2 separate regions of the Homo sapiens genome follow, and region 2 is linked to region 1. Evidence: fine-mapped expression QTL. A gene starts in region 1. The other region holds a variant in brackets. All regions are shown on one strand. Distances are between the middles of the regions. Region 1 holds the start of MCFD2 (multiple coagulation factor deficiency 2, ER cargo receptor complex subunit). Region 2 overlaps TTC7A (tetratricopeptide repeat domain 7A).

What was found. PIP is the estimated chance that this variant, and not a neighbour inherited with it, causes the effect. A credible set is the group of variants that fine-mapping cannot tell apart.
Region 2: its variant is the best candidate, but not a certain one, in a credible set for the expression of MCFD2 in pancreas (GTEx, PIP 0.86).

What each region holds. Positions count from the first base shown.
Region 1 is chr2:46,913,273-46,918,790 of GRCh38, reverse strand. MCFD2 (multiple coagulation factor deficiency 2, ER cargo receptor complex subunit) reads left to right here and starts at 2,985. Exons shown (of 4, transcript NM_139279.6): 1 at 2,985-3,068. It also overlaps a transcript of TTC7A not described here. RefSeq lists an enhancer at 1,941-2,915 and a silencer at 2,919-2,998.
Region 2 is chr2:46,954,235-46,959,234 of GRCh38, reverse strand. TTC7A (tetratricopeptide repeat domain 7A) reads right to left here. Exons shown (of 20, transcript NM_020458.4): 3 at 2,228-2,396. Among named protein-coding and RNA genes, the nearest start is that of TTC7A, 16 kb to the right of the region's middle. RefSeq lists an enhancer at 1,712-2,211 and a silencer at 3,811-4,105. The variant C/T (reference allele first, on the strand shown) is at 2,902.

The sequences.
Region 1 (5,518 bases):
TACTAAAAAAGGCAACACTCACTAATGTTCCATATTGCTCGTGAGATTTCTCCAAAAATATAGCATTGGTTGGCATGTGGCCTATATCCAAGGTCCAGCAAGTGACAGTTTCACTACGGCTTATAAGGGTCACCAACTTTCCAGTTTGACATACAGTCTTTTAACACTGGCTACCTTAACCTCCAGTTAGCCAATTCCATATTTTAGTGTCTTGTTTTTAGCATCCTGCTTCTGGTACCAAATTATTTGCCTGTTAGGAATGGGTTCAGCTACAAGTTACAGAACACCCACCTATAAAATGGCTTAATCAAAGGTGGCTTCTCACTTATGGACTACAGTAGGGCAAGAATGGAAGCAGGACGGTCAGTTAGGAAGCTCTCTCTCAAGTAGTCCAGCAGCATCATCTACTACTGGACTAGATGGTTTAGTGGAGGTGGAAAGAAGTCAAAGACTCAGGATACATTTTGATAGCATCAACAGGCTTTGCTGAAGGATTTAAAGGTAAAGGGATGAGATAAATCAAAAACAGCTCGTAGAATTTTAGCTTGAACAACAGAATGAGTACCAGTGACATTTACTAAAATGCACAAGACTGAGAGAGGTGCAGGTTTGGGGGTGAAAATCAAGATTTTGGGGGGACACATTAAGTTTGAGATGCCAGTCTGACATTCATATGGAGACATCAAGTAGGCAGTTATTTACAGGAGCCAGGAATTACACAGAGAGGTCATTGTCAGAGAGACATATTTTGGAGTCATCTATTTATAAATGGTATCTAAAGCACAGGACTAGGTAAACTCACATAGGGAGGGTGGATAGAGAAGGTGACTCAGAACAGAACCCTGGACACTTTGATAATTATAGATTGAGAAGCCAATTAAGAAGCCCAAGAAAGGATAATGAGTGAGGTAGCAGAAGGACCCAGAGTGTGTGGTGTCAGAAAACAAGAGAAGAAAGTGTTTCTAAGTGAGAGTGGTTGGCTTTGATAAAACAGTGTTGAGAGGGCAAGTAAAATAAAAACAAGAGATCAAAGAGACCACTAGATTTGCATGGAGATTGCAGTTTCAGTGGTATGGTGGGGGAGAAAATACAGCAAGTTTATATGTTGATGGGAATTATCTGGTAGAGAGGGAGTGACTGTAGATTCAAGAGAGACATAACACAGGATAACATCCATAGGAAAAAAATGAAAGCACTGGCTAGAATGAGGACACTTTATCCATCTACCAGACACCAGCTTCTTGACACTTCATTTGTCTTATTTGTATCTCTAGTAGCTCCTAGTAGAGCGCCTAGTACATAGAAGATATTCAAGAAATGTTATTGAATGAATAAATGAACAAAGGGAGGGGTGGATGAATGGATGAAGAGATGGATGAATGGCAGATGCAGGGTAGAAGGAGGAACTAGATCAAACTAATCCAAAGTTCAGAGTAAGGAAAGAAGAATGGGTCTTGAATTAATAGGGTTTCCTCAAAACTTAGGGATTCTTTGTCCCGGCGCGGTGGCTCACCCCTGTAATCCCAGCACTTTGGGAGGCGGAGGTGGTGGGAGGATTGCTTGAACCCAGGAGTTCGAGACGAGCTGGGCACCATGGAGACTCTTTTCTTTAAAAAAAGAAAAAAAAATTAGGGATTATGGGATTTTTCTCTGGGATGGGGTGGCAGATTTCAATCTCAGATGAAGGTGGGAAAAGGAATGAGACCGTCAATGGCAGTGGCGTTAGGCAACTTTCAAGGCATCTAACTACTTAGCCACTTTCTTTGTCTTTCCTGTCCGGACCCAGGCTCATTTGAAAAACGATTATGTACCTTTATGGACAGAAATGGGAGAAGGGCTTTAAAAAAAACGACCGTCCTGCCGGGAGTGGTGGCTCACGCCTGTAATCCCAGCACTTTGGGAGGCTGAGGCGGGAGGATCAAGAGGTCAGCAGTTAGAGACCAGCCTGGCCAACACGGTGAAACCCCGTCTCTACTAAAAATACAAAAATTAGCCGGGCAAGGTGGCACGCGCCTGTAATCCCAGCTACTCGGGAGGCTGAGGTAGGAGAAGAGCTTGAACCTGGGAGGCGGAGGTTGCAGTGAGCCGAGATCCCACCACTGCACTCCAGCCTGGGACAGAGCGAGACTCCGTCTCAAAACAAAACAAAACAAAACAAAAAAACAAAACGACCGTCCTACACTCATTTATCCATCAGGTCAATGGATACTTACTGAATGTTAATCTTGTATAGGAGCACAGGTGTAAGGGCAGGATTATACAGGGATGAATTCGATACAGGGATGATGTATTCGTTTCCCTATTTGTTCATGAGTCTGTTTTTAAGTAATCTGTCCTCTCTTGAATGTCAAAAGCTGCTGATTTCACGAACGGTACATGGAAGATGGTATTTGAACTGGGTCGCATAGTCTTGCTGGGACTCCCGTGGAAGCGAACGGGGACAGCGGCTGCCGCAGCTTGTGCAGTGGAGCTGGCAGACGCTGGAAGCAGGCCAATCTTGAAACGTAGGGTCCAAGGCCGGCTCCAGCGTGTTGTGGTCGTTTCATCAAGAAGGAATTAGCATTCCTATTATCTTTCTTCCCAACTTGCAGCAGGACGAACCAAGAGACCTGAACCAAGAGCCCTGTATAGGAGGGGGTGAGCGGAGTTGGGAGCCAGCTTTGGGGTCCGCCCCATCCGGATCCGCCATCCTACGTCGCCCGTGGAACTACGTTCCTGAGGGCTTCCGGCGTTGCCTAGCAACTGCCGGGCCCCTAGGGCGTCCAGCGGCCCAACTGGAGTGGAGCCGAGTGTCGCCCTTGGGAAAGCAGGTAGAAGAACTGCGTCAGTCCCGCCAGTGCTGGGCCCGGGCCGATTACACGTGGACTCACGCGAGCCGTCCTCACAGCCCGCCGCCGCCAGCGGGAGGGGCCCGGCGGCGCCAATGGGCGGGCGGCAGGGAGCGCGCGTGCGCAGGGCAGGTCGGGGGGGGGGGGGGGGCGGGGCGAAGCCGAGGAAGAGCGTTTTGGGGACGGGGGCTGGTGAGGCTCACGTTGGAGGGCTTCGCGTCTGCTTCGGAGACCGTAAGGGTGAGTGAACTAGCGCACTCTCCGCAGCGGGCGGGATCCCGGCGCCTCTCCTGTGGGCTGGAGGCTTGGGCTCAAGATGAGAGGCAGGAGTAGTCTGGGGGCGCGGGCTGGGCCCCCAGGCCGTCTCGGGACGCTTAACCGGCTAGGAGCACGGCCTGTCTCCCGGGGCGGAAGCCTGTGCCCCACCGGGGGCTCTGGAGCCAGACGGGGCCGACTGGGCAGATCTCCGCCCCCTTCCCTGGTCCCTAGGGGCCCGAGGATCGGCCTGTGGGACCAGCTGTGTCGGGTGGACACTGCTCCTGGCCCGGCCCAAAAGCAGCGGGCCGGAAGCCTTACTCTCCCTCTGCTCCTTGTTCCCTCTCTCGGGGAGACCACAGGTCCTGTCGGGCCCGGCGGGGGAAGCTGATCTCCTGTTGTATTCCCTCTCTGGGCATGGCCATCCACCCGGGTGCCCAAGCCAGAATTGGGCATCATTCTCACTTGCTTCACTCCTTTACCCACCCACATCGAATCCCTTGCAAAGTTGTCTTGGATACGTTCATTCTCCAGTCCCATCCCCCTGCCCTACCTAGTTCAGGCCACCTTTTCTTCTCTGGACTACCTCGGTGTCTTCCTGATGATCCCTGCATCTCTTCTTCATCCTCTGTAGTTTGTTCTATACAGAGAGGCTACAGCCATGGTCTTAAAACAGAAATCTGATCATGTGACCAGAAGCGTCCCCCCATTCCCTTATCACCCTTTGGTGGATTCTCATTGCTCTTCCAAGCTCTTGAACGGGGCTTGCAAAGCCCTTCATGACCTGTCTTCCTTTAACTTTAGATTCATTTGTCTCGACTGTACTGTGTCTTCAACCATACTGAATCTTTTTTGGTTCTTAGATCAGAACAAGTTCCTTCTGGGCTTACATGTTCCTTCAGTATGTTCGCTATGTCTGAGGCACTGTCCTTTGGTTGAAATAATCCTTCTTATCCTTTATGTGTTATTTCAGGTGTCAGTTGGGGATTTCGTGGTACCCCATGGGTGTCTGCCTGCCGGTCTCTCTTTTCTACCAGGTTGTAATCTGTGTGAGAGGAGTTTGTCGAGGTCATAGTACTATCTTCAGTACCTTGTGCTGTTAGTACGGTCATTAAATGTATAAATGCAGCATGGGTGCTCCTTGGGCTCCCTAGATGAACAAATAGATCAAGTTATTAATATTAAATGCCTGCTTTTTCAGAACCAATTCTCAACCCTCAGTCCGTGTAGAGGTTTCTTTAGCTTAGGAAGTTGGTTATTTTCTTGCCTTCATTCCAGGACCATGACAGGGGTAAGTGACAAAGTACTGGTCAGTTTTTCTTTGGCATTGGCTGTGGGTACAGGATGTCTGGATGTTGGTGAGTTTGGCTGCTTTGGGTTTGAATTCTTAACCAAGGGCCCCTTGAGGGAGAAGCTGCTACTAGCTGCTGGCAGGAAGGCTGGCCCCAAACTTAGTGCTGATAGGACTGATGACACACCAGGAAGAAAGGGTTGGGCCAGGTCAAACCACTGGAAGCCTCCAAAGGAAGTTCCAGCTTAGGCTAGATCCGCTGTGGGATAGGGAACAATACACCTAGGTGCCAAGACTCACTTCCCTGATTCAGCGATGAGCCAGGTCAGCTCAGCAGAGATCAGTAAGGTAAATGAGAGCCAGAGGAGAGAGGGTCCTGACTCTCAGAGAGGGAGGAAAAGAGAAAAATGGAAAAGGAGAACAACCTGTGATCGTATGTTCAGGTCAAATGAGTGTGAGAGGCTACAGACTGAGGTCGGATGAGAGAGCAATTGGTCTTGGCTGGAAGAATCCTGAGGTGACATTTGAACCTGTCCTGGAAGGAAGTTGGAGATGGACAGATGGAACCAGTAGGAGCGGAGGCTGTGGTACAGGAAGAGGCTGGCAGAGCAGGAGGGGAGCACTGTGACAGCCAAGGCACTGGGAGGCGCACTGCTCCTGATGGTCCAGCACTGCCCTCCCAGGACTGAGGCTGCGCCTTGTGAGGGCTGTCTCAAGGTATGGGTTGTGCCCTGAAGTCCCTTTGCAGAAATTTCTCCTCCGTTGGGTTTTTCTTCAGCCTGGCCTTTATAATTTCCTAAAGAAGGCCAGTGAGCTGGGGCTTATCTTCAGGCTGTTAGCCCATGGCCTTGAGCTAAGTAGTTAGAGCATGGATGATGCAACCTGTTATTTGGGTAGAGGGAGTTGCTTATGCTTTCTCTTGACTGTCAGCAGTTTAATTTGTTAGGTGGCAGTTAGATTCCCTGTTTTCTATCTTTCCCTCCCTCGCCTGCCTTCTTTCCTTTCTTCCTCTCTCTCTCTCTCTTTTTCTAATTAGAGAGGGAGTCTCACCATGTTGTCCAGGCTGGTCTTGAACTCCTGGGCTCAAGTGATTCACTTGCCTCAGCCTCTCAAAGTATTGAGATTACAGGCATAAGCCACCATG
Region 2 (5,000 bases), 41 kb before region 1:
AACTGATGTCCTGAGTAAGCTGCTTCCTTTTTGTCAGCCTCAGTCTCCTCAACTGTAACATGAGGGCTTGGCCTGGATCACTTGATTCCTTTCATCCTAGGATTCTCAGCAACAGTATCACAAGCTCCAGCTGCCTGGGTTCAAATCCTGCCTCTGCCACTTCCTGTGAGATCCGCGCATGAGTCACCTCACTTCTTCCAACCTTAACTCCTCATCCGCGACATAGAATGAGGGGAACACCAGCTCAGAGGGTTACAGAGGGGGCTCAACGAGGGCCTACCTGGCATGGAGGGGGGCTGAATAAATATCAGCATTCTGTGAACTCTGTGGCCCCTGCTGCCACCACCCTCATGCTCACAGACGGAGTCAGGACCAATGACCAGCGTCCTCAGCCCCCGAAGGGTGTGGCCTCTACTCTGCATGGGAAGACCCACCGGATCCCCCAAACCCAGGCAGATCAACATCATGCACACCCTGGTGGCCACGTGCATGGTCTCAAGCACACACAGGGTCAGGCAAACCTCAGCATGCCGGGCAGCAGGCGTGGTCACTGCAGCAGGACAGGGAGGAGGACAGGCAGAGAGGAGGCAGGCAAAGGGGAGGCCATGTGCAGTCACTGGGGAACGGGAGCTAGCACAGCCTGAGACCAAGCAGCCCGCGCCGGCAGCGCCCGTCTCCTTACCTCCCCTGCAGGACCTCTGACCACCGGGACTGTGTTCCCCCAAGAAGCCGGAGGCATGCTGGAAAGAGGAGAGAGCAGGAGACAGGGGGCAATCCATCCTGAGCCAGGCTCAGGAGAAAGTCCCGGAAAGGAAGCCCGAGGAAGGGGGTTCCGCTCAGGGCGTCCATGGCTGAAGGGGTTTCTAAGAGACCCGAAAGACCCAAATGCCAAATGCAGATCACCCCCAAGACTGGCCTGTGCCAGAGGCGCAGAGCGGGGGATGAGAGAGCAAAGGACGAAGACCACCCACAGTGACCATCTTGCCAGGTTTCCTGGCATGGTGTGGACCCAACAGAAAAGGGATCCAAGGATCTTGGGTGGGCGAACCCCCTCAGAAGTCCCACCAGCCAGAGTCAAGGAGGGTGTGCCCTCCACAGATGTCACAGTCACTCCTCCTGGGACCCAGGGGAGACAGGGGAAACTGAGTGTGTGTTGCAGGGCCTTGGAGGACTCACACTCCAAGGCCAGAGTCAGAGCATGGAGGTTCTCATCCTGGCTCCACCATGTATCTGGGTAACTTTGGGCAAGTTATCCTCTCTGGGCCTCAGTTTCCCCACAAGATAGTGAGAATGTCCCTATCTATAATAGAGTGTGTCACATAGTCTACAAATGCCAGGCACCAAATGCCCACTGAGCCACAGGCATCTTTTCTAGACTTTTCTCTGGAGGTTGGTTTGTGCTGCACTAGGGAGACGATCAAACATCCAAGATTCCGGACAGCAGGCTGGGCAGAGGGGCTCCCGCAGCCAGGGATCCAGGGAAGAAGGAGCCTGAAGCACAAAGTTTGGGGTAGGATGACTTTAACATTGAACACATTTGGGGTCCAGTTAAATGGCACGATTCCCCCAGCTGGGCTGTCCACAGCCCCCTCATAAAATTCCTACATCACTGACCCATGTCCCTAAATCCCCTCCAGAGCACCCCTTGACCCTGGAAGGCTAAGAGCTCCTCCAGGAACTGGTTCTGACCTGTTCATCACTGGGTCTCAGCCCCTGCTCCCTGGGCCACTCACAGCAGGTGCCCGACAAATAACTGAGGAGTGGCAGACTCCTACAGCATCCAGCACCTGCTCTGGGGCCAGCGCCAGTCAGCAGAGCCAGCCTGCCAGTGAGAGGTCATACTTTGTAAACCTTTCTCAACCTTGCTACACAATTCTGCTGATGACTCTTGGTCATGGTAACCCTGGGAGGTCAGGTATTACAACCGTATCTTCCAAACAAGTAAACTGAGGCCAAAGGAGGTGAAGAGGTGATTGCCCAAGGGTACACAAAGTAGGGTAATTGTTGTTGACAGAGCCAGGGCGAGAATCTGAGTCTCCTAACGTCCCAGGCACCAGGCAATGTCAACATGGCCGGTTGCCACCGGCATCCACCTTAGACACCAGTGCCAGGGCATGGGCACTACCAGGGGTGAAGAATCTGGACACGAGCCCAGCAGGGCCCTGGGAGTCAGAGTGCAACGAGCTGCACACAGTGGAGGGGAGCCCAGGCTGGTGCCCACAGCTACCTTTGATGACAAAAGCCTCCGACAGCAGCCGCATCTGATACAGGGGCTTGTTCTCCATGGACATGTCATCAATCCCGGCCCGTGCGTACATGCTGATGGCATCTCGGTATGAGCCCTCCACGTAATGCAGTTTGCCCAGGATCAGCATGGCCTCACACATGTACTGTGGCTGAAATGACAAGGACATGTTACCAGCGCCTGCCCCAAAGTTACCTTGGGGTGAACACCCCCACTGAACCTGGACCTTGTTTGCCTCAGACCTTGCTCAGAACTCCCCTCCTCCTCCAGAAAGCCTTCTTTGATGCTCAAGCACATGCCGACAGCTCCCCGCTCTCACCCATGGTCTGCAGCCTACATTGTGGTTCTCAATAAAATTCTCCTATGAGTCCCTAATTGTTTCATGTGTGTGCGTTTTATGCCCCCAGCAAGACTCCAGAGACCTTGCAGACTAGGCCCTGTCTTCCCTCTCCTGAATCCCCCCAAAGACTGCAGCCCCAGGGGGCACTCAGAAGCTCAGGCATTTATTCTAAACACAAGTGGGGAGTCAGAGATGGAGTTAAGTTTTGTGGAGCCCCAGGCTTCTCATTTTGGGAGTCCTCTTGTGTACATGTATATGCAAATCATAATTAGGTGAAAGGCCTTAGAAACAGCCTGTGAGGACCCTAAAGCTTATG[C/T]CTCCCCCTACAGTGGCAGAGGGACAGATTGAGGAGGAGAGGGCCTGCTGCGTCACCATCCTCTTCCTATCAGAAATGGGTCAAAGTGCAGAATCACGGAGGCCAAGAGTGGCTGAATTTAAACGTGTTTTCTTTCCCCTCCTTTTTCAAAAGTTGCTTACATCTCAATCTCCATCCCACAGAGGAACTCTCAGGGCCTCCCTTAGGGCCTGCAGTGGTCTTGTCAGCCATGATCACCCCTACTGTGGCTTGGGATCCTGTGCTGTTGCCTGAGGGAGGCTGTGCTGGCCCTGGGCTGTGCCACCCTGGCACGTGAGTTCTGACCTTGGACATGGCCCCAGTTCTCCTTGTAACCTCCCGCCTCTGCAGGCCATTTGCTCTGGCCCCCTGCCTCTGATCCTGTCCTCAGCTGGCTCACAATGCCTATGGGCCAGGCCCTGGGCACTGCTCCCGCCACACAGGCACCAATCTGTCCATAAAACTCCCCGAAGATGCAGCTCTCATCCCACACCTGGCATTTGTCACTGGCAGGAAGGTGCTACCCCTGTCTCCCTGTAGGGAGGTAAGAGTCTGGGGTCCCTGTGACCCCAGGGCAAGCCTCCAGCACTCCTTACCATCTACTGCCCTCTCAGAAGCCAAGAGAAATGAAGCGTGGCACAGACAGGCTCTGGGGAAGCCAAATTCACCTTCCCAACTGGTCCTTCTGGCCTTTGTAAATCCACATTCCTCTTTTGCCTGTGCTTCCTCAGGTCCCCTTCCCCCTGGCCTAACCAGGTCCTCTTCTATCCTTTGGGGCCTTGCTCAGGCCCACCTTCTCCTGAAAGCCTCCTTGACTACCAGGGAGCTCCCTTCAGCTGAACTCCTCCAATGCCTCTACCAATGGGCCCATTCAGCCTCTGCACGCCTGACCTGCTCTCTCTATTAATTAACTCTCCAAAGCTGAATCTTTTGAGGGGATTTGCTAGTCTTCCCAGATAGGCCATCCACTCCCTGGGCCAGGGCCACAGATGACACATCCCAGAGGTATGTGGCCCACAGTCCTTCCAAGCTGGGCAGTGACTCTGCGTTCCCTGCACTGGTCTCAAGCCACGGGCTCATTTCCTCCCTGCTCGGGCTGCGTCTTCCTCGTGGGTGAGGGAGAGATAATAACACCTACTCCTCACTGCCTATCACAGCGATGCTGAAGGCATTAATAGGGCAAAGTCCAGAAAAGAGCTTTGAACTTTTCTTTGGAAAAGAGCAAGATAAATACAGGGTATGCGTATTTATCATTATCCTGCACATGGAGACAAGGGCAGTGAGGCAGAGAAGGACATTTCAGGCATGCTGATGGGGTGTGGCTAGTGGCGGTTCCTGGAGGACCAGTGGCAGTTTACAACAGAGCTTCCACCAAGCTGGGGAAAAATTAGACAATGCAGGGCATGTTTTATAAAGCCACATTTACACTATTTAAAAAAATGCTCGGCCGGGTACGGTGGCTCACGCCTGTAATCCCAGCACTTTGGGAGGTCGAGGCAGGCAGATCACCTAAGATCAGGAATTTGAGACCAGCCTGGACAACATGGTAAAACCCGTCTCTACTAAAAATACAAAAATTATCCGGGCGTGGTGGTGGGCGCCTGTAATCCTAGCTACTTGGGAGGCTGAGGCAGAAGAATCGCTTGAACCCGGGAGGCGGAGGTTGCAGTGAGCCAAGATCGTGCCACTGTACTCCAGCCTGGGTGACAGAGCGAGACTCCGTTGTCTCAAAAAAAAAAAAAAAAAAAAGGCTCTTAGTTCTGAAAGGATATCTACCTTGCCCTTTCAATGCTAAACTGTTTTTCTGTTATAGCACAGTAAGAGCAGAAGATGGTATCATTTTGCTGCTATTTTTTGCTTCTTAATGTCCTTACTTGGCAACATTAAGAGTCCACTGCACTCTGTGGGGCCCATGCATTTGAATGTGAAATATTCTTGGTCTATCAGTACAACAGTCAGGGAACGGAACCCCTTGCCCAGTGGGAGGGTGCCACGGGGGAGGTCGCTTTACCAGAGGAACAATCCCCTCTACTGTGTGGATCAGCGCATCACCTACTCCTTTTGTGCCTCACTGTCCCTGT